Homo sapiens: one gene and its partner. The protein of the gene in region 2 purifies or fractionates together with the protein of the main gene of each other region. This does not show direct contact. Each region holds a gene or a part of one and is shown on either strand. Other genes may lie near its edges.

Evidence for each region.
Region 1: the proteins of TOM1L2 (region 2) and SZRD1 purify together in Homo sapiens (affinity purification with mass spectrometry; 2 studies listed by BioGRID and IntAct, with this or other methods). This does not show direct contact.

Annotation. Positions count from the first base shown.
Region 1 is NC_000001.11:16,359,527-16,375,579, reverse strand, and holds the start of SZRD1 (SUZ RNA-binding domain-containing), read right to left. Parts: upstream 8,339-16,053; 5' UTR 8,323-8,338; coding exon 8,272-8,322; intron 6,488-8,271; exon of another isoform or gene 6,029-6,487; intron 1-6,028.
Region 2 is NC_000017.11:17,839,426-17,855,418, forward strand, and holds the end of TOM1L2 (TOM1-like protein 2), read right to left. Parts: intron 11,528-15,993; coding exon 11,468-11,527; intron 9,435-11,467; coding exon 9,398-9,434; intron 8,359-9,397; coding exon 8,210-8,358; 3' UTR 4,086-8,209; downstream 1-4,085. UniProt on the Homo sapiens protein: Acts as a MYO6/Myosin VI adapter protein that targets myosin VI to endocytic structures. May also play a role in recruiting clathrin to endosomes. May regulate growth factor-induced mitogenic signaling.

The DNA of each region.
Region 1 (16,053 bases), on a different chromosome or scaffold from region 2:
ACACTTTGGGAGGCCGATGTGGGCAGACTGCCTGAGCTCAGGAGTTCCAGACCAGCTTGGGCAACATGGTGAACCCGTCTCTACTAAAATACAAAACATGAGTCGGGCATGGTGACATGAGCCTGTAGTCCCAGCTACTTGGGAGGGTGAGGCATGAGAATTGCTTGAACCCGGAAGGCAGAGGTTCAGTGAGCAGAAATTGCGCCACTGCACTCTAGCCTGGGTGACAGAGAGAAACTCCTTCTCAAAAAAAAGAAAAAAAAATTATCTGTCTCCATACAGACTATTGGGGTTTGTTGCTAATTTCTGTGGGGCATGGTTTTACCTTAATATCCTGCACAGAGCTAGATGTTAAAGAGAAGGATGCTTGGTAGGAGCAAACGGTTTTAAGAAAAACACTCAAAGGCCAGGCGTGGTGGCTCACGCTTGTAATCCCAGCATTTTGGGAGGCCGAGGCGGGCGGATCACGAGGTCACGAGTTTGAGACCGGCCTAGCCAACACAGTGAAACCCCATCTCTACTAAAAATACAAAAATTGGCTGGGTGTAGTGGCGAGCACCTGTAATCCCAGCTACTTGGGAGGCTGAGGCAGGAGAATCGCTCGAACCCGGGAGGCAGAGGTTGCAGCGAGCTGAGATTGCGCCACTGCACTCCAGCCTCGGCGACAGAGCTAGACTCCGTCTCAAAAAAACAAAACAAAACAAAAACACTCAAGAAGAGAAATCTCTATGGATACTACATTAAAATTTTTTTATTTTATTTTATACTTTGGCCACAGATTTAAGTAGCTAAACTCAACCTTCTCCTAGGAAACCAACAGGTCAGTAGTTTTCCTGACAGAACACACCTTGTAGAGGCTAGCTACCTGATACAGCCAGAAACTGATGCTAGCTGTCGGGGCCAACAGCAGTGGAGAGGTGGAAACTGGAAAGGGCTGGCCCCTGGAATGTTTTCAGTCATCAGACCTAGACAACTGTGACTTTTCTCTGCAGGACTGCACCAACAGTTTTAGAAAGACGCACTAAATCCTCTCCTGTCATAGAAGTAAAAACAAGAAGGCCTGTGATTGCTGGAATTTCTAGCCCACGGCAACCATGGCAGCTCTCTTGATACCCAGAGCACGCTGGGAACAGGCCCTCCCATGCAGCCAATGAAAAAAGGGCTGAGAAGTTACTAGTGAAAAGCTCATTATCCTCCTTTCTTTGAAGCCACAGTGAAACCAACCTTTTTCCAGAGTCCCAGGGACAGACTGCTCAGCAGAATCATGCCTAAACTGCCCAACTGCTTCACAGAAAGCCCCTTCTGAGGACATCACAGTCCATAAGGCTCAACCTTTCCAGAAAGACTAGCACCAACTGAGAGGTGGCCCCTTTAGGCATGGTGTATCTGGAACTGTGCTTTCTGTGATACCACAAATCTTAAATGCCTTCTTTTTACTGCAGGGACAGACATAAAGAAATCAGCACCAGATAGCCCCAAACTAATTGATCTCTTTTTTCCCACTACCCATAGCCTTTTTTTGTTGTTTTGTTGTACATGTTCCAAAATGACAGCAGCTACACAAAGCATTGGGGACCCCAGAGTGAAGCGGCAGTCACACTTTGGGGAGAATGGCCTCTTCTCCAAAGAAAGAGAAGAAAATCAAAGTTCTGATCTCCTGAATTTAATCTAACTATGGGCCGGGTGTGGTGGCTCACGCCTGCAATCCCAGCACTCCGGGAGGCTGAAACGGGAGGATCACTTATGTTCAGGCATTCGAGACCAACATGGGCAACATGGTGAGACCCTGTCTCTACAAAAAAATCAAAAATAGTCAGGTGTGGTGGCGCATGCCTGTAGTCCCAGCTACTCGGGAGGTTGAGGCTGAAGTGGGAGGATCACTTGAGCCTGGGAGGTCGAGACAGCAGTAAGTCATCATTGCACCACTGCGCTCAGCCTGGGTGACAGAGTGAGACCCTGTCTCAAAAAAAAAAAACGTGTTTTGTTTTTTTTTTTTTTTTGAGACGGAGTTCCACTCTTGTTGCCCAGGCTGGAGTGCAATGGTGCAATCTCGGCTCACCGCAACCTCCACCTCCCAGGTTCAAGCGATTCTCCTGCCTTGGCCTCCCGAGTAGCTGGGATTACAAGCAGGCACCACCACACCTGGCTAATTTTGTATTTTTAGTAGAGACAGGGTTTCTCCATGTTGGTCAAGCTGGTCTCGAACTCCTGACCTCAGGTGATCCACCTGCCTCAGCCTCCCAAAGTGCTGGCATTACAGGCATGAGCCATCGTGTCCGGCAAAAAATTTAAAACATAAATAAATAAATCTAGCTATATCACTCTTCTGCTTAAAAAAAAAAAAAAAACTTCAAAGCTCCTTGCACTTTCAGGACAAAGTTCAAGCTTCCAGAACCAAGTACAAGGAAGCCTTTCCCAATCTGGCCCCTACATACCTCTGTGGTCTCATCTCTTTCCACTCAACCCTGCCAACCCTCTCCCCTTCAGCCAGAAGGAAATACTTGTAGCCCTCCCAATGCTGTGTATTTGTCTCTCGGCCTCCTCATCCATGCCTGCTTTGGCCCTACACTCTACCTGCCTCTCCCAGACTTACCACTGCTTAATTCAACTGATCTTTCAAATCTTAACTTAGGCATCGTCTTCTTTACAAGACTTTCTCTGATCCAGCCATGGTACCCCACTTATGCCTCTTCCTGAAGGTGCTGCCGGACCTGTCTGACTCCCCCACTAAACAGGGCCTCCATGCCTGGTATGCAATAGTTATTTAATGTTTAATGACACCTTCCTATGGACTCATACACCATCCAGCATCACTGATGGGGCAATGTTTGGATAACTGGCTCATGGGGGTAGAAAGTAAACATAAATTTCAATTCTTAATCCAGAACACCAGTCATCCTTTAACTTATTCAAGATGCATTTTCTTCCCACTAGCTGCATGCCTTGACCTGGAGAAAAAGAATAAAAGGAAACTTGCAAGATACAGGGAAATCAGAGAGGTTGTCAGTGCTTTATAATAACCACTGGTCCAATTACATTTTTATATCATCTGCTGCCTTCCCCTAGCTGGGTTAGCTCATTACCAACACTATGAACTCTTTTTTTTTGAGACAGAGTCTCACTCTGTCACCCAGGCTGGAATGCAGTGGTGCGATCTCTGCTCACTGCAACCTCTGCCTCCCAGGTTCAAGAGATTCTCCTGCCTCAGCCTCCGGAGTAGCTGGGATTACAGGCACCTGCCACCATGCCAAGCTCATTTTTGTATTTTTAATAGAGACGGGGTTTCACCATGTTGGCCACGCTGGTCTTGAACTCGTGACCTCAGGTGATCTGCCCGCCTCAGCCTCCCAAAGTGTTGGGATTACAGGCGTGAGCCACCACGCCTGGCATATTTTATTGATTGTCTTAAACAATTGGGGATATAGGACGAAACCCTGTCTCAAAAAAAAAAGAAAAAGAAAAAGAAAAAAGTGTTTGCCATACTAACTAAAAGCAAAAAGTCTATTCACAGAATATGTGAGGGACTTCTCAAAGTCAGTCTTTCTCCAAATGACACAATAGGACTTGATACTAAGAATTCGGAAGCTATACAGGAAACAATGACCTCAGATGACTCACACACACAAAAATTCTTCCAGTCTGGGCAATATGGCAAGACCCTGTCTCTACAAAAAAATTTTCTTTTTAAATTAGCCAGGCACATAGTGGTACACGCCTGTGGGCCCAGCTACTCAGGAGGCTGAGGCTGCAGTGAGCTGTATTCCGACCACTGCACTCCAACCTTGGCAACAGAGCAAGACCCTTCTGTCTTAAGAAAGGGGCCAGGCGCAGCAGCTCACGCCTGTAATCCCAGCACTTTGGGAGGCCGAGGCGGGCGGATCACGAGGTCAGGAGATCGAGACCATCCTGGCTAACACAGTGAAACCCCATCTCTACTAAAAATACAAAAAATTAGCCAGGCGTGGTGGTGGGTGCCTGTAGTCCCAGCTACTCGGGAGGCTGAGGCAGGAGAATGGTGTGAACCCGGGAGGCGGAGCTTGCAATGAGCCGAGATTGCGCCACTGCACTCCAGCCTGGGCGACAGAGCAAGACTCCATCTCGGGAAAAAAAAAAAAGGGGAAAAAAAAAAAGGAAAAAAAAGGAAGGGAGAGGGGGGAGCAGAGGGATGGGAGCAGAGGGAGGGGAGGGGAGGGGAGAAATTCTACATGATGTCAAAAAATTTTTGGCTGGGCATGATGGCTCATGCCTGTAATCCCAGCACCTTGGGAGGCTGAGGCGGGTGGAGATTGCCTGAGACAGAAATTGCCTGAGACTGCAGTGAGTGTTCCCCACTGCACCCCAGCCTGGGCAACAGAGCAAGACCCTGTCTCAAAGAAAAAAGACAAAAATTTTCTTGTGGTGTTGGAGGGCAGGGATCTCCAAAATCCTTTACTTCCAAGGATTAGAACTGCCGCTGGATTTTTGTGTAGTTTCAATTTTCCCATTTAGGTTATTAGTCTTCACCCAGTTTTTGCTGTTTTGGAGTAGGGTATTCAAAGCTCATTACCAGTAGGAAGAGGGGATAACCTGAAGCCAAGACTTTTACGCAATTGCCTATATATGAAAGACATGTATAGCCTGCAGTCCATTGGTTTCCCAGTGATGTGGACATAACATCTCCCTGGCTCCCCTCTTTCAAAAGTGCATATTTACAAGAACCTTTGTGAAATTTGAAAAGGGAATCAAATTCAAGACAGCGTTCAAATATAAGCCCAGACAAACTATTAAAAATGAAAGCTGGCTGAGGGCAGTGGCTCATGCCTATAATCCCAGAACTCTGGGAGGCTGAGGCAGGAGGACTGCTAGAGCCCAAGAATTCAAGGTTGCAGTAAGCTATGATTATGCCACTGCACTTCAGCCTGGGAAACCAAATGAGACCCTGTATCTAAAATAAATAAATATTTTTTTTTTTAATGAAAGCTGCCAGGCATAGTGGCACATGCCTATAATCTACTGGGAGGCCCAGCCTGGGCAATCTCATCTCAAAAAATAAAAAAAAAATTAAAAAAAAAAAGGCCAGGTGCAGCGGCTCATGCCTGTAATCCCAGCACTTTGGGAGCCTAAGGCAGGAGGATCACTTGAGGCCAGGAGTTCGAGATCAGCGTGGCCAACATGGTGAAACCCCGTCTCTACTAAAAATACAAAAATTAGCTGGGCGTGGTAGCATGCGCCTTGTAATCCCAGCTACTCGGGAGGCTGAGGCACGAGAATCGCTTGAACCTGGGAGGTAGAGGTTGCAGTGAGATGAGATTGAGCCACTGCACTCCAGCCTGGGCAATGGAGTAAGACCTTCTCTCAAACAAAAAAAAAAAAAAGGAAAAGAAAGAACACCCAATTCCCAAATTTTCCACATGTCCCCAGGTAGAGAGGTAGCAGCAAAATGCTAGAGAAAAAAAGCCCAGCCTTGAAGTCAGACATGCTTGGGATCAAATCCCAGCTTCCCCCAGCTGTGTGATCTTGCGCAAAACAGGTTACTCTCGAAACCTCCGTTTCCTTGTCTATAAAAGGGGGACAATGCCTCAACAGGTTGTTTCAAGGATTCAATTAAATAAAATATATTAGAGAACCTGCATTTTGGCAGAAGTGTTCATGATGTCAATAAGGCAAGGTTTGTGTTCCACCTCTGTAGTTTTTTTTTTTTGTTTTTTTTTTTGATGGAGTTTCACTCTTGTTGCCCAGGCTGGAGTGCAATGGCATGATCTCGGCTCACTGCAACCTCCGCCTCCTAGGTTCAAGCAATTCTCCTGGCTCAGCCTCCCAAGTAGCTAGGATTACAGGTATGTACCATAGGGTCCAGCTAATTTTTGTATTTTTAGTAGAGATGGGGTTTCACCATGTTGGCCAGGCTGGTCTGGAACTCCTAACCTCAGGTTATCCACCCACCTCAGCCTCCCACAGTGCTGGGATTACAGGCGTGAGCCACAGCACCTGGCCGCGGTACATTTTTAAAGGATATTACTAAAGTAAGGGATAGCAGAAAGAACTCTGGCTTTCTGCCTCCGCTGCTGCCATGGCTTCTGTGAAAAAGCCTGTGGTGAAGGGGGGCAAAAAAAAGAAGCAGGTTCTGAAGTTCACTCTTGAATGCACTCACCCCGTAGAAGATGGAATCATGGATGCTGCCAATTTTGAGCAGTTTTTGCAAGAAAGGATCAAAGTGAACGGAAAAGCTGAGAACCTTGGTGGAGGGATGGCGACCATTGAAAGGAGTAAGAGCAAGATCAACGTGACATCCGAGGTGCCTTTCTCCAAAAGGTATTTCAAATATCTCACCAAAACATATATGAAGAATAATTTACGTGATTGGTTGCTCCTAGTTACTAACAGCAAAGATAGCTACAAATTATGTTACTTCCAGATTAACCAGGACAAAGAGGAGGAAGATGAGGATTAAATTTCATTTATCTGGAATATTTTGTATAAGTTTTTCAATAAAACTTGGGAACCAAAAGAAAAAAGAAAGAACACGCGACAAGCGTCAGAAAGACCTAAGTCTCTAAATCTCACATCTCTAGGCTTATTCAGCTGTTAAATGGGGGACTGTACTAGCTATTTCTAATTGACTTACCCATTCTGAAAAACTAAAGTAAGCCCCAATTTCTGCTGAATCCTATTCATTTTTGTTCATTTGCCTCCAACTTCTCTAACATGAGGGATTTATGACCCTTTGAAACAGGTGAGGAAAACCAAAGAAAGGCCAAGATGCCCAAGAAACGTATCATTTGCATGATATTAAAGTTGTAAGCCAAGCTTTTTTATAGGGATGTCTGGATGATTCACTCAGATTAGTGGTAGGCAATAAACGCCTGTACCGAAAATGTTGCATTTTCTGGCACAAAGTCACTGATAAGCACACTGCCTAGCATATAGCAGACACTCAAAAATGCTGGTTGAATGAACAAGGAGCCAACTGACACCTGTTACTCCCTATAAAATCTTTAACTTTCTTAAGCCAAAACTCAAGAAAGATGGTTGTCACATTAAGAACTCTACTAAATATCCTCTGAACGAACGAATCCTTCAAATTCTCAATTATGCTAAATGGAAAAACATAAACAACCGTTGAGAGAAATGCTGAACCAGCGGAAAAAACTTCAAAGCCAAGTTTCAACATTCCCGTAGAGCTAGATACACCCACTGACTGCTGCCAGGGTCAATTTCCCGGCCTCTTCCAGAGCTCATAAGCACCCCCAAAAAGCGCTTAGGAAAAAAAACCCAGCGCCTACTCTACCCTGGTACGCTCGACTCCTCGCACACGTAAACCTTTAAGGTGGATGTCAGTGCAGCCAGCATTGAACAGACGCGAACACGGGGAGACAAAAAAAGCATCTCCCCATATTCACAAGGGTCACCACAGACAAACTCTGAAAAGACCAAATTATTCACAAATCTAAGAGAATTGACAGATCCTCTTTGAGATAAACTATTTTCCTACAGTTTCTGGAGGCAAACAAAAACTCCAAAAACAAGTCGAACGGTCCATCTCCCCACTCCTCTCCCAAGAATGTGGCTGTTTTACATATCACACCCTGGACTCCGACAAGCGAACTCCTAGACCTTCCCGGGGCCTCGGATCGCTGAGTGGCAGAGGAGCTGCCCCGCAGAGCTTTCGGTTGCTTTGGCAGAGTCCCCGTGAGACCTGCCTGCCTGCCCACAAACTCTTCTTGGAGTAAAAGTGAAAGAGAAAAAAAACCCGACTCGTCCACCGTGACGGATGGTGGGGGATTTTAGCAGAGTTGAGTAGCCCAAAGAGGATTCAATTTCCCCCCGCCCTCGGCTGCCTCCTCCCGCTTTCCTGCGAAGCCGGACATGCCTCCTTGGTCCGCGCAAGCCCCACCACCACCCACATGGTGTGTCCGTCCCGGTCAGAGCACAAGAACTTTAAAATGGTGCCTCGGGCCACAAGGCTCATCGGAAAGAGTCACAGAGGCCCACGGCCAGCAAGTGGGCGCGGGGGGTCAGGAAAGGAGGCCCCGGGTGGCGGGTGGGGCGCCCCGGGTGACGCGCGCGTTAGTGGGCGGAGGGAGGCGCACCAGGCAAAGGAAAGGAGAGAAATGGATCGCGGCCCCTTTAAGAGGCCTTCACGGCGCTCAGGAACTGGGGGCCTCTCCACCACCCCCAGCCCGGCGTATGGGGCCCTTCCTTGGGGAGAACTATCTCCAGACCCGCTCCCCGGAGGCTCCCCTCACGCCAGGTCTCGCCCGGCCCTGCCATGGGACGGCGGCTCCTCCTTACCCCGCTGTCTGCCGCCTCTTCCCAGCTCTCAGCGACCTCCTCATCTTCCATCTTACTCGCCGCTTTCCCTCCTCCCCCACCCCCTCCCCGCGCCTGCGCTTTGAAGCGCGCCTCCGTCGCGGGCGCAGGCACGCAAGGCTTTACTCAATGGACCCCGCCCGCTGCCAAGCCCGGAAGAGGCGCCAGGCAAGGTCCCAAGTGTACATTAGGGCAGCCATCTTGGAAGGGGGCAGAGAAGGCGGAAAGATGCCATCTTTCTTAAGGGCCAACGCGTTATCTGTCTTACAGAATGGGCGTTCAAGGGAAGTCCTCATCTCGAGTACCGGAAGTGTGTTCTGTGGAACCATCTTTTCTAAGGGCAGGCAATTAAAGAAAACTTTTTTTCTTTTAAAGTGAGTCGTAGTTTTCCTAAACTACAGATAATGGTATCTTCAGAATTCTGAAAACATTTTTAAACACCAACAAATGATGAAAAATATCTGCTGATGCAGAAAACATTTTATTATTTCTGATAGGGTGAAAATCATTACAGTATTTCCTGCTCATAAAGCAGTATTCTAATCATTTATTAACACTATATCCGCTACCGTAAGGTAAAGACGGTAAAGATAATATTGCACCTCAGTTGGGAGAACCAGTGGGATTCCCAGCTACTAAGTTCTCCTGGGTCTTTAATGGTAGATAAATACGTTAGTATTACCTCTAAAAATTACTGGCCAGGCGCGGTGGCTCACGCCTGTAATCCCAGCACTTTGGGAGGCCGAGACAGGCGGATTACCTGAGGTCAGGAGTTCAAGACCAGCCTGGCCAACATGGTGAAACCCCGTCTCTACTACAAATACAAAAATTAGCTGGGCATGGTGGCACACGCCTATAATCCCAGCTACTCCGGAGGCTGAGGCAGGAGAACTGCTTGAGCCAGGGAGGTGGAGGTTGCAGTGAGCCGAGATCATGCCACTGCACTCCAGCCTGGCCGACAGAGTGAGGCTCTGTCTCAAAAAAAAAAAAAATTATTTATGTCAGGGCAGGCGTAGTGGCTCACACCTGTAATCCCACTTTGGGAGGCCAAGGTGGGCAGATCACCTGAGGTCAAGAGTTCGAGACCAGCCTGACCAACACGGAGAAACCCCGTCTCTACTTAAAATGCAAAATTAGCTGGGCATGGTGGCACATGCCTGTAATCCCACCTACTCGGGAGGCTGAGGCGGGAAGATCGCTTGAGCCTGGGAGGCGGAGGTTGCAGTGAGCCAAGATTGCGCCATTGCACTCCAGCCTGGACAACAAGAGCAAAACTCTATCTCAAAAAAAAGTTATTTATGTGGCCGGGCATGGTGGCTCACGCCTATAATCCCAGCACTTTGGAAGGGTGAGGCGGGGGGATCGCTTGAGCCCTGCAGTTTGAGACCAGCCTGGGCAACGAGGCAAAAGCCCATCTCTACTAAAAAAAAAAAAAAAAGCTGTGTGATCTTAACGCAAGTTACATAAGGATTCTATGTCTCAGTTCCCCAAGTGTATACATTAGAGATAGCTACTTCAAAAGTAGATTGTAAGAATTTAACCAGTTACTATGCTGAAATGCCTAGAACAGTGCCTGACCCATAGTAAGAGTCCTAAGGGTTAGCTATTATCATTATGGGAGTGTCTTGTCTGCCCGAGGAAGATTTATAATTGTCACTTCTGTAATCATCCTTTCTTAAAATATAAGGACAGGGAGATGCCAGGCGCGGTGGCTCACGCCTATAATCCCAACACTGTGGGAGGCTGAGGTGGGCGAATCAGTTGAGGTCAGGAGTTCAAGACTAGCCTGGTCAACATGGTGAAACCCCATCTCTACTAAAGATACAAAAATTAGCCGGATGTGGTGGCAAGCACCTGTAATCCCAGCTACTTGGGAAGCTGAGGCAGGAGAGTTGCTTGAACCCAGGAGGCAGAGGTTGCAGTGAGCCAAGATTGCGCCATTGCACTCCAGCCTGGGCAACAAAGCGAGACTCTGTCTCAAAAAAAAAAAAAAAGGCAGGGAGATAAGCAAACACCATGTGTTTATATTCTTACTGACATGTTCCTGTTTTTCTCTCAGTTTTAAATACATGTCATTCAGTAGTGTTGCATTTGGCTGCTATAACCAAGTTATCTGACTTGGAATGTGTTTTTTCTTGTATTTTTAGTATGCCATTAATCTTTCTGAAGTAAAACCTTCCTGCTGTGAAATTTCATAATTTGTATTCTTTTTTTTTTTTTTTTAGACATAGTCTCACTGTCGCCCAGGCTGGAGTGCAGTGGCGCAATCTTGGCTCATTGCAGCCTCTGCCTCCTGGGTTCATGTGATTCTCCTGCCTCAGCCTCCCGAGTAGCTGAGACTATAGGTGCTTGCCACTATGCCCAGCTAATTTTTGTATTTTTAGTAGAGGCCAGGTTTCACCATGTTGGCCAGACTGGTCTGGAACCCCTAACCTCAGATGATCTGCCTGCCTCAATCTCCCAAAGTGTTGGGATTACAGGTGTGAACCACTCTGCCCGTCCTGTTATTTGTATTCTTAATGATTATCATCATAAACTGCAACCATGTGTTAAATGTTACTGGTCTTTATTTAGAAGCTTAAGTGATATGCTTACTAATTCTCTGGTTTCACAACTTCCTGACTCTGAAATATTGTTCATTTCCAGGGTCTGTCCTCAGTCCACTGTTCTTACCTAGATGTTCATGGTATAAGCCACCCACTGTATGCTGAAGACTGCCAAAGTTGACTTCTAGCTGTGAACTGACCTGGTGTTTCTGATTCTGATTTTTACAGCTAGGCTTCTTATTGCCATCTCCACATGGATATTCCACTAGCAGCTTTTAAGTCTCTAAAACTCAAGTAATTCTCGGCCGAGCGCAGTGGCTCACGCCTGTAATCCCAGCACTTTGGGAGGCCAAGGCAGGCGGATCACGAGGTCAGGAGTTCGTAGACCAGCCCGACCAACATGGTGAAACCCCGTCTCTACTAAAAATACAAAAATTAGCCAGGCGTGGTGGCGCATGCCTGTAATCCCAGCTACTCAGGAGGCAGAGGCAGGAGAATCGCTTGAACCCGGGAGGTGGAGGTTCCAGTGAGCCGAGATCATGCCACTGCACTCCAGCCTGGGTGACAGTGAGATTCCATCTCAAAAAACAAACAAACAAACAAAAACCAAAAAAAAAAACCACACAAAAACTCAGTAATTCTGTTGAGTTCACCAATTTCATGGATTTTTGGCTTATTCACTCTGTGAGATTATATTTACTTGGAATACATTCTACTGTGAACCCATTCGTTGAAGTAAATTATCCTGACTGAGTCTTGGCAACAGCAAAGTGGTTGAAACTGTCAGACGGGGCTGGGCGCGGTGGCTCACGCCTGTAAATCCCAGCACTTTGGGAGGCCAAGGCGGGCAGATCACGAGGTCAGGAGATTGAGACCATCCTGGCTAACACGGTGAAACCCCGTCTCTACTAAAAATACAAAAAAAAAAAAAAATTAGCCGTGTGTGGTGGTGGGCGCCTGTAGTCCCAGCTACTCGGGAGGCTGAGGCAGGAGAATGGTGTGAACCTGGGAGGCAGAGCTTGCAGTGAGCCGAGATCGCACCACTGCACTCCAGCCTGGGCGACAGAGCAAGAGTCCGTCTAAAAAAAAAAAAAGTATACAGAAACTGTCAGACATAACCTCGTTCTGGAGCAATAGTTTTTCCTAAATGCAAGTGACTCCTATATTTAAGCTTTGTCGTTATGCCATATTACCAGCAGAGGGAGATGGTTTCTTACAATTTAGCATATTGGGCAACGACCCTTAACAAAAGCATTAGTTGTGCATTTCTGGGACTGCATTTTCAAGGAGACAAGAAAGATGGAGACCTTGGAAATCATCTGAAAATGCTGCAAATGAAATAGTTTTTGTTCCACAAAATGGGTAACCAGGAGGTCAGTCTTAGTTAATCACATAGACCCCTTGTGACCTTGGGCAAGTCTCTTCTCTCTCAGTCTGATTCCTCATCTGTAAAATCAGGGATGGAACCAAATTAGCTCTAAAATTGAAAAAGTAGTGGCAGTTTCTTCTTCCAGGGATAAGCCCAAAAAGTTGAGGCAGTGGCGGCCTGGCACCGTGACTCACGCCTGTAATCCCAGCACTTTGAGAGGCCGAGGCAGGTGGAAGATGAGGTCAAAAGATCAAGACCATCCTGAACGTGGTGAAACCCCTTCTCTACTAAAAATTCAAAAATTAGCTGGGCGTGATGGCACGCGCCTGTAGTCTCAGCTACTAGGGAGGCTGAGGCAGGAGAATCGCTTGAACCTGGGAGGCGGAGGTTGCAGTGAGCTGAGATCATGCCATTGCACTCCACCCTGGCCGATAGGGTGAGACTTTGTCTCAAAAAAAAAAAAAAAGTTGAGGCACACAATACACAGGTATTGTCAGAGGCCCTAAAGCATGAGTCTTTCTCTCTCTCTCTCACTCTTTCTGCTCTCACTCGGTCACCAGGCTGGAGTACAGTGGCACAATCATGGCTCACTGCAACCTCCACCTTCCAAGCACAAGTGACCCTCCTGCTTCAGCCTCCTGAGTACTGAGTAGCTGGGACTATAGGTGTGTGCCACCACACCCAGCTAAGTTTTTGCATTTTTTTTTTTTTTTTGGAGATGGAGATTCTCTCTTGTCACCCAGGTTGGAGTGCAATGGCGTGATCTTGGCTCACTGTATCCTCCGGATTCAAGCGATTCTCCTGCCTCAGCCTTCTGAGTAGCTGAGATTAGAGGCCTGGGCCACCATACCCAGCTAATTTTTTTTTTTTGACAGAATCTTGCTTTGTTGCCCAGGCTGGAGTGCAATGGTGTGATCTCGGCTCACCACAAGCTCTGCCTCCCGGGTTCAAGCGATTCTCCTGCCTCAGCTTCCCAAGTAGCTAGGATTACAGGCGCCTGCCACCAAGCCTGGCTAATTTTTGTATTTTTAGTAGAGACCGGGTATCACCATGCTGGCCAGGCTGGTCTCAAATTCCTAACCTCAGGTGATCCACCCGCCTCGGCCTCCCGAAGTGCTGGGATTACAGGTTTGAGCCACCGTGCCCAGCCCGGTGTATTGTATTATTAGTGGAGACAGTTTCTCCATCTTGGCCAGGCTGGTCTCAAACTCCTGACCTCAGGTGACTTTTTTTTTTCCTGAGACAGAGAGTCCACTTTTTTTTTTTTTTTTTTTTTGAGACGGTGTCTTGTCTTGCTCTGTTGCCCACGCTGGAGTGCAATGGCGTGATCTCAGCTCACTGCAACCTCTGCCTCCCAGGTTCAAGCAATTCTTCTGCCTCAGCCTCCTGAGTAGCTGGGACTACAGGCACGTGCCACCACGCCTGGCTAATTTTTGTATTTTTAGTAAAGACGGGATTTCACCATATTGGCCAGGCTGGTCTCAAAGTCCTGACCTTGTGATCTGCCCGCGTCAGCCTCCCAAAGTGCTAGGATTACAGCCATGAGCCACTGCGCCCAGCTTTTTTTTTTTTTTTTTTTTTTTTGACAAATTTTCGCTCTTGTTGCCCAGGTTGGAGTGCAATGGCATGATCTCAGCTCACCACAACCTCCGCCTCGCGGGTTCAAGCGATTCTCCTGCCTCAGCCTCCCGAGTAGCTGGGATTACAGGCATGCGCCACCATACCCGGCTAATTTTGTATTTTTAGTAGAAATGGAGTTTCTCCATGTTGGTCAGGCTGGTCTCGAACTCCCGACCTCAGGTGATCTGCCCGCCTCGGCCTCCCAAAGTGCTGGGATTACAGGCGTGAGCCACCTCGCCCGGCCGAGATAACTTTCTATCTGACGCACAAGCTGAAGCTAGGTAGATAGTTGTGATGAGTAAATGGCAACTTACCAATATTGAAAATGTGCAGGCTGGGCATGGTGGCTCACACCTGTAATCCCGGCACTTTGGGAGGCCAAGGCAGGTGGATCACCTGAGGTCAAGAGTTCGAGACCAGCCTGGCCAACATGGTGAAATCCCACCCCTACTAAAAATACAAAAATTAGGTCTGGTGCAGTGGCTCATGTCTGTAATCCCAGCACTTTGGAAGGCTGAGGCAGGCAGATCATGAGGTCAGGAGTTCAAGATCAGCCTGGCCAGCATGGTGAAACCTCATCTCTACTAAAAATACAAAAAGTTAGCCGGGCATGGTGATGCGCACCTGTAATCCCAGCTACTCAGGAGGCTGAGGCAGGAGAACTGCTTGAACCTGGCAGGTGGAGGTTGCAGTGAGCCAAGATAAAGCCACTGCGCTAGCCTGGGTAACAGACTCCATCTCAAAAAATAAAAATAAAAAAAATAAAAAATAAAAAAATAAAAATAAGGCCGGGCACGGTGGCTCATGCCTGTAATCCCAGCACTTTGGGAGGCCAAGGCGGGTGGATTGCCTGAGGCCAGGAGTTGGTGACCAGCCTGGCCAACATAGTGAAACCCTATCTCTACTAAAAATACATAAAATTAGCTGGGCGTGGCAGCAGGCGCCTGTAACCCCAGCTACTCGGGAGGCTGGGGCAGGAGAATTGCTTGAACCCTGGAGATGGAGGTTGCAGTGAGCCAAGATCGCTCCATTGCACTCCAGCCTGGGCAACAAGAGCGAAACACCATCTCAAAAATAAATAAATAAATAAAAATAAAAATACAAAAATTAGCTGGGCGTGGTGGCACGCACCTGTAATCCCAGGTACACAGGAGGCCGAGGCAGGAGAATCGCATAAAGCCTGGAGACAGAGGTTGCAGTGAGCCGAGATCATGCCACTGAACTCCAGCCCGGGTGATAGAGCCAGACTCAGTCTCAAAACAAACAAACAAACAAACAAAAAGAAAATGTGCATACCTAAGGATATCCATTGCTATTTTGTCTATAATCAAAAAAGACTGGAAACAAATTAAATGTTCATCGCTAGAGAATTTGTTTTAAAAGACTATGGTACATTCCTATAAAAGAATAGAATGCAACTGTTAATAACATTTATATTGTCCTAAATGCACTGATACTGAGTGATCTCACATGAGAACTAAAAATAAAATCCTAAACCTTCCAACGGACTAAATGGACACCCTTTTGGTACAGGGGACCCCAGAGAAGCCATGATGGAACAGGAAGTCAGACACACTTGGTTATACCCTATCCCTTTCACAGTTTAGACACAACAATTGACCAGCATTAATGCTAAAATAGAGATCATAAGACTGACACAACAAATGCTTTGTGGTAATAAGATGCTTTTTTTTTTTTTTTTTTGAGACACAGTCTCTCTCTGTTGCCCAGGCTGGAGTGCAGTGGCTCGATCTCGGCTCACTGCAACCTCCACTTCCCAGGTTCAAGAGATGCTCCTGCCTCAGCCTCCTGAGTAGTTGGGATTACAGGCTGGCAACACCACGCCCGGCTAATTTTTGTATTTTGAGTAGAGATGGGGTTTCACCATGTTGGCCATGCTGGTCTCAAACTCCTGAGCTAGTGATCCTCCTGCCTCAACCTCCCAAAATGCTGGGATTACAGACGTGAGCCACCGCGTGCGACCAAGATGCCAATTATAAACAGGACATAAGGTCATACCAAGCAAGGGTTAAGTCATGCACCCCAACCCTTTAAGAATAAACTATGTTCTGGCCAGGTGTGGTGGCTCATGCCTTTAATCCCACCACTCTGGGAGGCCGAGGCAGGCAGATCACCTGATGTCAAGAGTTCGAGACCAGCCTGGCCAACGCCGTGAAACCCTGTCTCTACTAAAAATACAAAAATTAGCCAGGCGTGGTGGCGCATACC
Region 2 (15,993 bases):
TTTTAAATGGGTTACCACATATGTAAATAGAATAGCTCAATAAATATTCACTCCATAACTGCAGGAGTTAGGGGAAAGGGAAAGAAGGTAAGACAAGGTCAACAGAAGACCTGCACCCCAGAAAATCCAACCCCCATGGGGCACAGTCCAACGTGGGGGTGGGAAGAATTTACATCTTTGCCACCAAAGAAACAAATCTTTGCCCCACAGCCTGGGATTACCAGGGCAACCCTCAACGTGAGGGTAGGGGAAAACAGAAGAGGGGATCCATTTTTCAGGGGGAACATGCTTGTCTTGGCAGTTTCTCTCCTCAAAGATCCTGAGACCTCCAAACAAGACCCTCGGGCCCCGGTTGGCTGGGGAGCGTTGAGCACGCCCAAGGAACGTGGACACAAGCCCCTCTGTAATGGTGTGCCTATCAGGGGTCAGGGATCCAGCCTGGTCCACGGTGACCCCGGCGGGCAGGTTCGGCACAGTTTACTTGCTGAGCGCTTACAGAGTGTTCAGTGCGGTTTAAACCCATTCACTCCTCTCGACAGCCTCAGGCGGTTGAGGCTGTTACCATCCCATTTTACAGATGAGTAAATTGAGGCACGTGGAGCGGGACGGTGAAGCGACTTGCTCAGGACCTCACAGCACTGCTGCCCCTGGTTTTGTCTGGACTGGAGGTAGCCGGAGAGCCGGGGCGGCTCCGCACGCGCGCGGGCCAGGGCAGCGGCTGGAGACCCAGGGGAGCCGGGGCGCAGAGCCAGACCAGCCCCGCCCCCGCGGGCCCGGCGCAGCCAATGGGCGCCCGGCCCGGAGTGGGGTGACGCGGCGTCAGCGCGTAACTCCCGGGAGCCCAGCCCTGGGTCACATGCGCCGCGCCCGCTCTACCCGGGAGGTAGGGAGGGGCGGCGGGGACAGGCTGGGCTCAGCCCCCAGTCCAGACACCTGGCCAGGAATGCCGCCAGGTGCGCGTCCCGGGCACCGGAAGGGCTAACACGGGACAGCCCCACCCGGGACTGCGTGGCGCGCCCAGAGCGGAGGATTCCTTCCAGGTCACCCAGCCCGGCCCCTGCCCGACCTCGGCGTTGCCAACTGGGAGATAGGAATTCGCATCTCCCCGCTTCCTCTCCAAGCCTCTTAGAGACTGAGAGGCAGCTTCTGTGGGTTTCGAGCCTTTTCGGGCAGGCGTCCAGCACGGGCAGGGCCTCTTCCAGGACGCTTGTCCTGTCCAGCCATGCCCTCGGTGCCCGGAGCTCAGCCGTGGATGGCAGGGCAGGCACTGGGCAGGAAAACTGGGTTGTCCACTCTAGCCATTGCCTAGGCTACTGAAACCCCTCCCCACTCCCAGAGCCCCCCTGCCCCCCTGCCCCCCTGCCTGGCCCTGCATATCCTTCACTGCTGTGGGAGCCAAGCTGGGACCTGCCCAGGTTATGGCAGAGGGGCCAGGCTGTGGGAAGAGACTGCTCAGAGCCTGAGTCTCCCCTCCCCCACTTCTCCATCTGTATATAATGGGGTCAGATGACTGTTGACATGGGTGATTCTGGTCCTAGATGACGCTCGTGGTCTCATTCCAGCTTGGGCTCTGTGGTGAGCTGGGCGAGTTCTTTCCAGCCCTCTCTGAGCCTCCATGGCCAGCTTTGCCCCTGGAGGCTCACACCCATGTGGGCACCTGCAGGCTTATCATGAGTCACTGAACACACCCTCTACCAAAGAGCTACTTGAACCCCAAAGATTGCTGCACAGTGAGGGGTGTAGCTCACAAAGGCTGAGGAAGACTGATACCTGTTCCCTGGGGGGTAACTGGCTGTTTGAGGAGAGGCCAATTGCATATTGAATGGGGTGAGTCTAGCCGGCAACAGGGAGAGTGAGGAAATCAATGTAATAAGGCCCCTGTGGGCATTGGGTTTACCACCCACTACACCAGTTTACCGATCAGGAGAGTAAAGAACAGAGTGAGACAGTGACTTACCCAACACCTACAGTTAAGCCTGCAACCCTAGGGAGGAATGGGGTGGACAGGAAATGGCACCAGACAATGGAGTCCACTCAATTTCCGGAAGCATCCTACTTACTCCCTAGTGCTGAGAGTAGAGATTTTGCGTCCTGGAATGTTGAGGGCCTGGGCTTGGAGGCCCTGGACAGACTCCTCTGAGGTCTGCCCCAAAAGCTCTGACAGGGACTCCTGTAAAATAAACTGATGGCATTTCTGGGTGGGTCATGCAGACCTGTCCAAGGCCTCAGGTTCTGCCCTCCCGCTGCCCCCAGGACCCAAAGGAGACCTTTTTCTTGGAAAAACCACAGGCTCCCACAATGCTTCCCTCAAGTGTGCAGCTTGAGTGCCCTGGGGCTCAGCTATGTGCTCAGAGCCTCCTCTCCTGCAGGCCCTGGAAGAGAGCTACAACACTTAACTGGCTGCAGAGTGTCCTTGACTCTGGGAATAGAACCAGGCTGCACATTCCCCAAGGGCAGGACTGGAGCAGCCCTGTCCCTCCCCTCTGGCACCAGCCTGGCACACAGCAGGCTCTCAGGAACACTGCTGAAAGCACAAGTGGCCTAGGTGTCCTGGTGAGTCCACAGTAGTGTCTCAGCACCAATCTACTCTCCACAGGGTAGGGACAGAGCTCAGGCCTCTTTCAGTGCCCACATTGCCTGGTACAGTGCTGGGGGCACATAATGAGCCAGGATCTATGCTATCTGTTTAAAGGGACCTGGGTTTGCAGCCCCCCACCCCCACTTCAGGAGCCCACTCCCCTTCTCCCCTGGGTGTGGGAACCTTTATCTCACTCCAACTGGTCAGAAACAGGGCTCTGCAGAGCTCCCTGGAGCCCAGGGAGGCAACTGGCCAGAGGTAGCTGGGTGCCGCCCCTTCTGGCTACGACTGGTGATGGCGGTGGTCCCAACACGGCCCCTGCCGTGACCTGACTCCTATCAGTGGGCAGGAGAGCCCCTCCTGAGCCACGCTCCCAGAAGGGCTGCTGTTCAGGGTAGGTGGGGCAGCTTTATCTGCTGGCCATGGAAGTGGTGTCTTTCCTGCCCACTTCATGGACCTGTCTGGGAGGTCTGGCTCTGGGTTGGGTACTGGTTCTGCCACTACTCCCTGTGCAGCCTGGGGCAAGCCTACAGCTCTTTCTAGTCCTCCATGTCTTCACTGGCACAGCAAGAGTTTGGGAAGATCTCCAGGTTCATCGGGGGTTTGGTGAGTCCACCCTGACTTGAGGTCTGTCCTTAAGCCCCAGCGAAGGGATTAAAGGGCCCTCGGCCTCCCAAGCCACTTGGAGAAGGCACAGTTCCCACAGGCTCCCACAATGCACCCCTCATGACCCCCTATGCCTCTGGGCCTGAGGGGCCTGCTTCCAGGAGGACAGCTACCTTACAACAAAGGGCTGCAGGTGCCCACCTCCAGGACAAGGGGAGAGGGGGAAGGAAGCCTTTTTAGAAAGGGAGAGCAGGCTGTGGGGATGGGAGGAGACAGGTTTCTTTTGGGGGGAATAAAAATGTTCTAAATTTGGTTGCGGTGATGATTGCCCAACTCTATGGATATTCTGAAGACTACTTAATTGTACACTTTAAATGGGTAAATTGTATGCTATGTGAATTATATCTCAGTAAAACTGTTAACAAAGTGTGAAGTCTACCTGGCTTGGAGCAGCAGTTCTCAAATTCAGTGCCCAGCACAGGCTCTGCAGATGATGCCCAGCCAAGCTGTGGGAGTCCAGCCGAGGGTGGGGGCTGGGGCTTAGAGGGGGTCAGGGGTGGCTCAGGCCTGCTTGCTCAAGGCCTGGGTGCCCTGGGCAAGGGTGAGTGGCCTCCTCCTGCCCATCTGGGACCTGGGGTGAGACCTAGGAACAACCACAGCACTTGGTCCTAGAGCTCTCAGGCAGGTTGTAGCAGGCTTACAGCCACTCCCACCGATGTCACAACCTGGGCCACGCACAGGAATTTTCCTGGCCAGGTAAGGGGCTGCTCAGGCAGCCTGGCCACTGGGGAAGGGTGGACTGAGGGTCCCCATGGCCACCCCTGCTTAAATAAAGCAGGTGGTCAAAACTGGCAAGCCCTTTGGACAGTCGTAGCCAATTCAACAGACCACACAGGCATAATTTGTTCAATTATTTATTTATTGTGGAGTATTTTACATGCAAGAACCCAATTAGAGAGAGGGTATCTGGAAGGAGGGCCAGTGGGGTGGATGGATGCTCTGAGCCTCGGGTGCACTGACCCACCCTCCAGAACCAGCTCTGCCCACAGAAACACATGACAGTGACAAAAACACTAAACTTCTAGGACGAGTGGACAGCAAACGCGACATTCAACACATTCCTCTTTTCAGTAGCCCCCAACAATCCTGAGAATCCTCACAATTAAGTGCAAACTTTAGGAAATAAATATCCGTCCCCCTCTCCGGGAGAGCCTGGAGGTATGGACAGACAGAAGCAGTTCTGACTCGGGGGCTGATGGCTGCTCCCTATGGCTGGTGGCCGCAGGGGAAGCCTGACTTGGACCCCACAGATAGGAAGGGCTGGTGACGGGCACTGGGGGAGGCGAGCACTTCAGGGGCTGACAGACAATGTCTCTGGGGTGGAAACACTTCTCTCTGGGTGGGGAAGGCCTACTGTAACCCAAGTGGGTGAGACGTCCCCAAAGCCGACAGTGCAGAAGCTCCCAGGGACCACTCCAGCAGTGCCAGAGGCTGAAGCCAGGCTGCAAGCAAGTGCTCCTCCACACTGCTCTTCCAGAGCTGCCCCAGGGGCTGGCCTGGCCCCAGGTGGGCCCATGGCCTACCCCAAGCCATCCAGAAGGCTGGGCCCAACTGAGTTAGAGATGCGTGTCTGCGGGGGCCCAGGGTGGGGTGTGGCAGCGGGAAGGAGGGGGGCAGGAGCGTGAGCATCGGCAGCAGCTGCCCTGCGAGCATCTGTTGCCCTTGGGCCATGTGGAGCCCTTGCCCCAACTCTCCGGGCTGGGTCCTCTCCTCCCCAGGGGCTGGAGTGACAGCACAGGCCCCAAGACCACCAGGTGGCATGGTGGGGTGGTGGGGGAAGGCTAGTGAACCAAGGCACCATCACTCACATGGAGGCGCTAATAGAAAGACAGGAGGACAGACGGATGGTCACCTTTCCCTCTAGCCCAGGCCAGCAACAACCCCTTGAGGCTCCAAAGCTCCTTGTCCCATGCACGCTGGTAAGCGAGCCAGTCATTCTCTCAGCCTGGCCACAGATGGCCTGCTCAGTGCCTGGAGACTGCCCAGGCAGGGCTACTCTGCAGCAGGCAGGCCAAAGGCCCATGGTGCCAGGGGCCCAACTGCACATAGCGCCATTCTCTGCCGCCCAGTGGCCAAAAAGGTAGGCAGGAGGGAATGGTTAGTTTTCACATCTCAGCAACAATGAACGCAGAAAGGGTTAAACACATTCCCAAGAAAATATTTTGACAAAATAAATATTTTAACCTATAATCAGGTATAATTAGTGCTTATAAGGAATCCCAGCAATAATTTAGTGTAATTAAGTATATACTGTATCTGTGATTTCTAACACTCACGGAGAGGCTGGTGGGCCTTGAGAGTCCAGGTTTCCTGACAGAGCCGCACCCCCTTCCTGGACCAGGCAGCCTAAGGACTGTGCTCCCCAGATGGTGGGGTCTGGGAGCAGAGATCTCAGGACAGGCCATCTCGCCAGGGCTAAGTGGAACCCACTCTGGGGCACCGGGGCTATACTTGCTTCCTGTGCAGGCCTCAAGCAAGAGCCCCCTCTGCCTACAGGTGGGGCAGGCTACCTCCGGATAGGAGGTGCAAGCAGGCCACCTGAGGGGTGGCTCCAGGCTAGGAAGGCAGGTGACACTTGTCAGCATGGCCAATGGCCTCCTGCCAGCCCATACAGGTCCACCACTCCCTGCTGCCCCTGGGGCAGCCAGGCCTCTCCAATGATGCCTGGCAACCAGCTGGCGCTGGCGCTGGAGCTGGAGCGGGGCAGTTCTGGGAGTGGGTATGAAAAACAGTTTTGCTGGGGGCTCCCCAGGAGGGCGCCTATTTCAGCTTCACGCACTATGGAATCCCTGCTCCTTTCAGAGCCTCCAGGCTCCTGACTTTTTGGGACTCCTGGTTCCATGAGGCAGGGAGGCTGGCTCTTCCCTCTGAGGACACTGGGTCTGGGATGCAGTGCTGAGGCTGCGGAGCACTGACTGCCCGAGGTCGGACCGCCCACCACCCGCAGGCCCAGCTCTGGCAGGGCCTCAGAGACAACCCAAGTCACAACCCAAAGGCAGCCAAAGGGCTGGGGCCTCTGGGTGCACCTGGGCCATCCCAGCCACCTTTTCTGCAGCTCAAGTGAAGCCAGCTAACTTCAGCAGTCTTCACATTCAAGCTGGCCTCAGGGGGGTCTGTCTTTGAGAAACATTGAGGAGGCAGGGGCTCATCAAGCATCAGGGAGCAGAAGGCCCAGGCAGGTGTGGCATGTGCTGCCAGAGAGGACAGGGCTAGAATCAGGCTGGCCACTCCACGGAGGAGCTTCCTGGGTGAACCTGAGCAACTGGAGTGAGACATCCCAGCTAGTCCCACCCTCAGCCAGACAGAGGTTTCCTCTCTGGAGGGAGCTGGAGGGCTGCTAGCCTGGCACAGGGTCCTGGGTCGGGCAGCACTTGCTCTTCACTGGAATAGTTCCTGTTGGTGCTCAGCATGACCCCCAGCTGAAGTCGCCATCCTGAATGCTCCCCAACGACCATGTCGCTGGTCTCTTCTCCCGTCAAGCCCAGCCCCCTTTCCCTGCTTGGCTGGTGGTCTGGGCCGTCCTGCCAGGTGGGAAGGGCTAACTACACCATGGATCAGGAACCTGTGCTGACCTAGGCAGTGCATGCTGGAGGGGACAGGAGCAGACTGACCCAGCGAGCTGGGCCCAAGACACACGGGGATGCATACAGCTGCAGTATTCTCCTTCTGAGCAACAGCAGCCTGGTGGGAGGTGTGGGGCCAGGTGTCTGGCTGGACCAGGGCCTGGGATGACCCGAGTCCCTTGCCCATGGCCAGGAGACACACCAGTGAGGACACGGGATGGGAATACATGTTACCAGCCCCTAGCTGCTCTGCCTGCCTTCAGGATCAGCTTGGGGAGAGAGTATAAATTGGTGGCCAGAGGACCTCTGAGGTGGGAGGAGGCCAGACTGTCAGGAGAGTCTGTGCAAGGAGGCCAAGGCCTATGCCAGGGAGCAGAGCAGGGGCCTTAGTGCTGCCCAGGCCTCTCAGTCACTGGGAACCTCCAAGGATGCCACAAAGCTGTTTGCTGCTGGCTCTTGAGGCAGATGTGTGAGGCTACGGCAGGCCAGGCCACAGCACTGAGTGTGGCCCATGTGCACATCTGTGACACTTCCCCAGGCAAGCCAGAGCAATACCTCCAGTGCAAGTCCCTCCACAAGCCAGGACCAGGTGTGCGGGTGTGAGCCTGCAGTGTGTGCGTGGCAGTTTGGTTTATTGGTAGTGTCGTCTCAGCAGCGTGCCACATGGCCACCATCTGCGGGCTGCCTGCTGCCCTCCCAATTGTCCTTGGCCCTCTCCCTGCCCAGGGAGCCTGCAGGGACCCTCGGTGCCAGGCTCGGCTGCTGAGCCAGCTTGGGTGTGAAGCCTGGGCTGGCAGCTGAATGATGGAGAGAGGGTCAAGAAGGTGAGAGACCCCCACCATGGAGACCCAGCAGAGCCTTCTCAAATGCTGATAAGCCAAATGTCACAAGGTGACAAGTCCAAGGAGTGAGACCAGGCCCATGAGTGCAGCACACCCTGCTCTTCCAGAGATGCCACAAAGCCCCTTCAGGGAGAGAGGGGCCCAGGAGGGCAGAATGCCTGAGAAGGTCGCTGAGCCAGGCAGAGGTGAGCACAGGGCGGGGCCGGGCGTGCTCTTTCTCCATGGGCGGGTGGAGGAAAGACAGTCCGGGTGGTCTGCTCAGGAAGCACTGCCTGGGGCTGGGCCACTCTGCCCGCTCTTCCTGGGAGGAAACATGGGCAGAGGGGCCCATGGTGGGAGGGGAGAGAGTCTCTGGCTGCAGTTGTCCCACCACTCAGAGAAAAGAAGTGGCTGAAGCTGGTCCTGACTAGTGGGAGGCCTGGGAGCAGACACGGTGGCATTTCCATGGAAACACAGGTGTGCAGGCCGTGTGGAGCTGGGGATGTAGGAGTGGCCAGTGCCCGGTGTCCACGGGGTGCGAGCGGGGACCCGCCATCTGGGGAGGCAAACCACAGAGCTGCTCACAGGGCGAAGAGGGCATCCTCTGACCGCTCTGGCTTCTTCCGGCCAGAAGGGTTTGAGGCTGGGGCAGGAGCCTCCATGGGGGGCGAGGGGAGGTCGGGAACCATTTCAGCAGCTTTGGCTCTTTCTTCAAGGAATTTATCAAACTCTGCAATACAAACCAAGGCAAGGGTCAGGGTTGGTGAGGGCAGGCCACCAGAGGAAGCGCACCCTTCCACTCCCCAGCCCGTTTCCTCCTCTAGGGCAGGCATGAAGCCCACCTAGGAGCAGGTGGGTAGGGAGGGGTTCGTGAGCTGCAGTGTGGGGGGAGGCTCCTGGCTGTGCCCAGTCCTCCTGCCCTGGAGGGAAAGGCTCTGGAAAACACAGCCCAGAGTGCTCACCCTACCGCTGACCATTTTCCAGATCAGCACTGGGTTTTGTCCATTTTCCAGATCAGCACTGGGGGTGGGGCAGGGTAAGCTGGAGGGGCCAGCTTCTGATTAAACAGGCAGGAACCATCCCACCTACCCCACCCTTGCCCACCAATGGAGGACTGAGGAGATGCTGAGGAATGCAGTGGGGAGGGGGGAGTGCCCCATTTCTATGGGCACTGAGAGCTAGGGAGCAGGGTCCTCTGAAGTTTCCCTCCCTGCGGAGCGGTCTGGCCACAGGGTCTGGCAGACCTGGGGAGAGGAGGACAGGAGCACGGAGAGGCAGATGGAGTGGGGCAAGATGAGCTTGGGGAGGCAGGATGTGAAGGGCAGGGGATGTGGGGGTGGCCATGTGGGAGAACTAAGACCCCGCTGCTCCCATCCAGCCCATCAGCTGAGGCCCAGGAGAGGCTCCTCCCTTCTGGCTCAGTGGCCCAAGGGTGCTGCTGCGCACCTCCACAAACTGCGTGTCTGAGCTGGGCTGAGCACCTGTGGGTCAGGACCAGGTGGCAATCTGCACCCGCTATTCACCAGCTCTGCAACTTTGTGGAATTGACATGTTCTTTCTGACCTGTTTCCCAATAAGCGAGATAAATCACACTTCCCAAATCAGCGTAAGACCTGGGTGGGACAAAGCCACCCGTGAAGCCCATGGCTCAGGGCCTGGCACCAGTAGGTGCTCTGGCAGCGGGGGCTCCAAGATGATGGGGGCTGGCTCCTGTGCAGCCTGCACAGAGGCAACAAAAGGGGGCTGTAAGGCCACTGGCCAGGCCATACCTTCACTTGTGACACCCTCCTCCAGATCATCACCCTTCTGTGGGAGGAGCAGAGAAAATGAAATTAGGGCACTGGTCCAAGCACTGCCCGCCCAGCCACCTCTGTCTGCCCATGGCCACCCTAGGACAGCACTGCCCAGGGTAGCCTGAACAAAACTTCCTAATTTTCCCTGTTTCCAGATTTCTGTAATAGTAAAATACTGCTCTTCTTATTGGAGAAACAGAAGCTTTGTTTTTAAAAAACAAAAGCAAAAAATTCAAACATGTTTTAGGTTTTGATCCTCCAGAAAGGCTGGAAAGAAAACTCCAAAAACGGTGCAGGCTGGTTCTCCAGCCTGGGCTGCAGAGGGCGGGACCCCACCTTTGGCACTCTTGAGGCTCTAGGGAGAGGCACAGAGCAGTAGCCACAGGGGGCTGAGCCTGAGCACACACAGGGTCACGTGTGCCCAACACAACACCCACTCACTGCCAGCCACAGGGTTTCTGGGAAGACGCTGTTGACACCAATAGCTGGAAACCGCATGAGGCCTTGATGGCTCAGGGCCACAAAGCCCACAGCACAGGGCCTGTCACTCAGTAGGTACTTTGGGAGTGGAGGCTGTGCCTCCAGAAGCCATGTCCTGCAGCCTCCTGGGAGCTGCACCAGCCTCCTCCCGTGGCCCAGATTATATTATCTGCTGCTGGCTCCTCAAGGAGCCATGGAGGCTCTGTGCACTCAAAAATTAAAGTGCATCAGACTTGATTTTGTTTGGAGAACATGGTAGTGTCTTGAGCTCATGGGGTTCCCTGGGGACTGGGGAAGAGCAGCATGTGCAGGGCCTCATTGGGAAGGGGCAGGATGGGGAAGTGACAAAGCCCTGGGCTGGGCTAGGAGACCTGGGTTCCTTCCTGACTCTACCACTGACCTGCTATGTAGCCTTACTGGACACATCCCCTCCCTGTCTGGACCCTGGGGTCCCCCTTAGAAGTTAAGGACCTTGGTCCTTCCTGCCTTGCTTCTGTGAGAGAAGCAATTTCTTTTCGAGACAGCCCCTTGGGAAAGATGTCCCGGGGTGTGTTCTTCCTCCCTGACACCCAGGCAGCTGCCTTCTTTGGCAAGGCATGTGTTTGGAAAGCTGACCTTCTGGGGAGGAGGCCCAGAGCAGCCAGAGGCCCCAACCTGAGGCCTGCTGTCCTGGTGTGGGAGGTAGCCAGGTCACCAGCCCACAGACAGCCAGGCTGACCCTGTGGTTAAAGAACTCAACAGGCTCTTCTGCCTGGGGACAAGGCCCCCTACAGAGGAGGCACCTAGGAGGGAGATGAGGTGTCTCCAGCTCTGGGGGAGAATCCAACTACCCCATGACTCTGGGCAAGCCACTTCCCAGAGTGCACTTCTTCATCCGCCACCCTGGCCCCCTACTGGGCTGCTGAGAGTGAAAGTGCTTTGTAAAGAACAGAGGGAGGGGCCAGCAGTTATCACATGCAGCCACTGCAGCTCTCCTTTCTTGGGACCTGTTGCCATTTTCAGATGCATAGTATCCTCATCTTCTAGCCCTATCTCTGAGGATGGAGACAATGGGTCTTTGGGGCAGGGGTTCTTTTACATCAAAAATCAGGAAGGGAGGAGGGGGATGACAGCCAATTAAAAACAAAAGCACTGTGTGTATACTTCACAATTAAAAAAAAAAGAAATGAAAACAAAACAAAACAAAACAAAAAACATGCTCCCCCAACACTCCCTCCCCCAAAAAACCAAAGCACGGCACATACATCTGAAATGGAAAAGATACTGGGGGGAAGGCAAGTGTGTGTTTTGGAGCCAGCTACGGCTAGGACTGTGTGGGTGAAGGAGGCTGTGCCCAAGGCCTTGCCCCCAGCACAGTTGGCCTCCGCAGGCCGGGAGGCCACTGCAGCACCCACAGCTATGGGCTGATGTCGGGGAGGAGGGGCAGCTATGGAGCTTGCCCAGACCTCCCTTCTCCACTGACCCAGACAGGGGTGGAGCCCCTGCTGATGCTCCCCCAAGGCCTGTCCTCAGAAGAGCCTCTGCCGCTCCACACCCCACAGATGAAATAGAAAAGTCGAGTCTCACCAGGTCGGTCCTGAGCCACACCTCAATGTCGTCCATGACAGATGGCTGCGCAACGGGGATCTATGGAGGCGGCAAGCAGCGGGCCAGGCAGCCCCCACACAGCCAGCGAGGGGAGACAGAACACCGGAACAAAGGAAATCATCAACAGCAACCCCAAATAAAACCAAAATGTACACAGAGCAAAAAAACACAATTGGCACAGCACACAGGGGCAACACAGGGCAGCCACGTGTGAGATGGCAGGTGAGGAAAGCAATGAGGTGCAAATGATAAGAAGCAGGCTCCCGGCAGGGCCGGCGGTAAGGAAGGTGGCTGTACGCGTTCTTGAAATGGAGAACTTTTTGACTATGAGTGTCCACTCTCACATTGCGGGGCCTCTCAGCCCGGGGCTGCAAAACACCTTCTAACTTCAGGAAGGCGCTGCCACGCAGGCTGATTTTGAACTCAGCCACTATGACAGTCCGCTGTCAAGCCCAACCCAGGGAAGGCCAAGTGACAGCCTGCCCAGAGCGGGGTACAGGTGCTCAGAGGGCAGGGCAGCACCAGCCCCGGGGGGATGCAGGGGGTCTGTTTGCTCCGCTGAAGAGATTTTGAAATGCGTCCTGGTGCATTTCTGAGTGGAGAGGGGAACTGGAGGAGGTGCGTGCTCCGCTGGGCTGGGTGTGGCCTGGTAGACAGAGGCAGGCACATTTTACCATCAACAGAAACACAGCAAAAACGAGGGCTCTGATGACAAAGGGGACTATGGGGCTTTAGTCTTCTTTGTGTCTCTTTAGGGGAAATTCATGAAGCAGCCCTGAAAGCAACAGCTCCCTTTAGTCTCGTCCTTTCTTCCCTGTGTTCAATGGCTGGCTGTGCTTCAGGAGTCAAAGAAACCAAGTTCAGCTGAGCACTGGGGCGCAGCAGCCAGAGCCAGGGAGGTGACAGCTTCCAGGCATACTAAGGTGTACCACGGGGTTGCCTGAGCAGTCACCTTGCTTGGGCCCCTGTGCCAAGCACCTCAGGGACAGAGACTCTGAAAAATGCACATGGCTAAAAAGGTTTAAGTTGCCATCAAATATGACATGATAAGAAGCTCCCTAGAAGCCATGTTAATGGAATGTTGGCTCCCAGCCTAGAGAAATGAGGTGATGACCCTTAATCACCTCCTCACCTACCCTGGCTCTGGGAGGTACCCTTCCGGGGCTCACTTGCAAGACCCCTATTTCTATTACAAAAATGCCAGCTCTGTCTATAGCTGGCTTCACCCAATGCCATGATCTAGGGTAAGACTAAAGTAAAAATAAGCAGTAAAAGGAATGCATACCCCAGTGTCTATCAAATGTAAAAAATAACACGACCTTCACAAAGAAAAAGAACAAAGAACACATATCACCAGCAGTGATGTGACAACTCCAGTCCTGGGGGTTGACACCTGCTGCTGATGGTGGGGGAGGGTGGTTTGGGGTCCCAGGTAGAGTCCAGCACTCTGAGCAGGTATCTACGATGCCACCAGAGCTCTTCACTCCCTCAGTGAGCTCAGCTGGCCCCTTGCTCTGAGGAATGTGCTCTGTGTCCTAACTTCGGACCCAATGTGGGAAGCCCACAAGAGCACTTTCAGAAAGGCCCAAGCCAGTCACTGATCAGATTAGGAAGAGTCTGTGTTGCTCATTATTTCTTTGACTTACTGGGGAGTTAAGAATGTTGAATTGAGCAGGGCACGGTGGCTCATGCCTGTAATCCCAGCACTTTGGGAGGCCGAGGCGGGCAGATCACCTGAGGTCAAGAGTTTGAGACCAGCCTGACCAACAGGGAGAAACCCAGTCTCTACTAAAAATACAAAATTAGTTGGGTGTGGTGGTATGCGCCTGTAGTCCCAGCTACTGGGGAGGCTGAGGCAGGAGAATCACTTGAACCTGGGAGGCAGAGGTTGCAGTGAGCCGAGATCACGCCATTGCACTCCACCCTGGGCAACAAGACTGAAACTCTGTCTAAAAAAAAAAAAAAAAAAAAAAAAAAGAACATTGAATTGAAAAGGTATCAGGGAGTCTTATCACCCAGACATGAAACCTAGGGACAGGAGGCATGTGGGTCCTCACTGGGGGGATGGACGCACAAATGACTGACAGATGTGTTAACAATGCCTAAGGCTGGCACTTCCTTGCCCTTGCCCATCAAAAGGCAGTAGGGTACACTGCTACTCTGTGCTTGCTGGCAGGCCTTCTGCCTTGAGACATTCCTGGAACAGGACACACCAGTTATCATGCTCTCAATGACTGTAAGTCAGAATGTGTGGCCTCTGGGAGGACGCATGCCATGCTGAGTCCCCAAAACTGAAGCTTAGAAAGTCAGCAGCATCTCCAGAGAGAAAATAGTCCCACACTAGCGGTTAGAGTGTGCACCAGCCCTTTCTTTACACCTGACCAGCTTTTGTCCACTTAGCAGAAACAGACTAGATGTCCTGAGCTTTCCAATGTGTTGCAAAAGCTACAACAAAGACATTAAGGGGTCAGGGGCCTTAAACCTTCAGATTTTTCTTGTAATTGTTTTGTTGCTGCTAAAGAACAAATCCCTTGAGGCCTGGGGTCATACTTTAATTTTCTTCTTTGGGGATAAATCTTGAGAGCCAACATGCTCAGAAAATAAACAATGACACTTAAGAAATTCCTCACCTCCTCAAAAATAACTTCCCAAAAGCTGGCTCATGGGAACCCTTTTCTTCCATGTCCTAGATTTTTCCAAATAAGTAGTATGTTTATGGAATGGCATCCTCCAGACCAAGCCCTAGAGGGCACGCTGAGGAGAGTGCACTGGGTGGGGTCCATCTGGGCCCTCACACTCACTGGTGGCAGGACCTGGGGTGAGTCGCTCCTCTCTGGACCCCACTTTCTTCACCGGAGAGCTCCTGAGTTTCTTCTATCCTAAGAAGCCTTAGAGATTTGGGTGGAGAGGCAGGAGCAGGGGACAGAGGCCTGAGCAATGCTTGGCCTCAATTTCCTCATCTGTGAAATAAGGCGATTGCTAGATTGTATTTGGCTTTCAATTCTTATGACTCAGAAACCTTAACTTTCAGGTTGGTGCTTCTGTTTTCTAATTCAGAAACCCAGGGATGTCAGAAATTATGGAAACTGACTCATTACAATATAGAAGCCACTTGGCCTCAGGGCGTGAACCATGGTGGAGCAGGGTGATGGTTAACAGTTAAGCTTATATAACGTAAGCTTAAATTGACTTTCTTGTGGCCAGACACAAAACCTTAGCTATCTAAACCTCTTGTCCTGGTAAATAAATGCCTTGAGTATTATAACAGGGCAAAGTTCCTTCTAATAATGTAGGTGCTATCAGACTCAGACTAAACATGTACACTGCTTGGAAAATATGAACCAAAGAAACTGTGGGAGGCCGAGGACGCGCTCCTTGTCAGGCTGATGGGAGGGAAGTGGGGCCCTGGTTGGAGCAGGGGGCACTGCGCTGAGTCTTAGGGGACTCTGTTTCTTCCCTGCAGCTTTGGGCAAGACACCAGGCCCTTAGGAGGCCTCGGTATCCTCATCTGTCAGACTAGGGGCTGGCCCAGCAGATTCCTAAGAAGGCTGTTGGCTCTGATGTGTCATAGTTTTATTTTTATTTTTATTTATTTATTTAGTTATTTATTTAATTAATTAATTTATTTAGAGACAGAGTCTTGCTCTGTTGCCCAGGCTGGTGTGCAGTGGTGCGATCTCAGCTCACTGCGACCTCTGCTTCCCAGGTTCAGATAATCCTTGTGCCTCAGCCTCCTGAGTAGCTGGGATTACAGGCGTGAGCCACCACACCTGCCTAATTTTTTTTTTTTTTGTATTTTTAGTAGAGACAGGGTTTTGCCATGTTGGCCAGGCTGATCTCAAACTCCTGGCCTCAAATGATCTGCCCAGCTTGGCCTCCCAAAGTGCTGGGATTACAGATGTGAGCCACTGCACCCAGCCTGACATGCCATAGTTTCAGCATTTTCTTGGGCAATGATCCAAGCTGAAGGCTGGTCTGAGGGATCTGAAGAAGCGTATGAGTTGGAAGAGAGGGACAGAAAGGAAGAAGACATGTGAAGAGAGAAAAGGAAGGAAGCTAGCAGAGGAATGCCCTCCAATAGAGACTGCTGCCTGAAGCTCAGCCCCTCTGAAGATAGGTAGGCCAGGCTGGCTTGGCTGAGGCAGTGGTTAGACCAGCCCTGCCCATTTTCAAAGTCCACAGACATCTTGGATGTCAGAAGCCACAGGTTTTGATCTGAGTGGCAGGTGAGCCATCCTGCTGTCAGCTGATTCTCACTTGGAACTGCAGGCAGGGGCAGCTCTGCCTCAGGGATCAGGAGGGAGGGTTGCCTGCCCAAGGGGGAGAGGCATGTCTGTCTGGTACTCCAGGGGTTAGGATTATCCTTCCAGAGTAAGAGCCTTGGGGGCCTCCAGGTCTGAGGAGGGAGTCCCGCCCTCCAAACCCAAGCCTGGGTTTTGGCAGCAGCATTCTTTACTAACCTACCTCTGTTCTTGTTTTGACTTAGATTCTCTCACATGAGGATA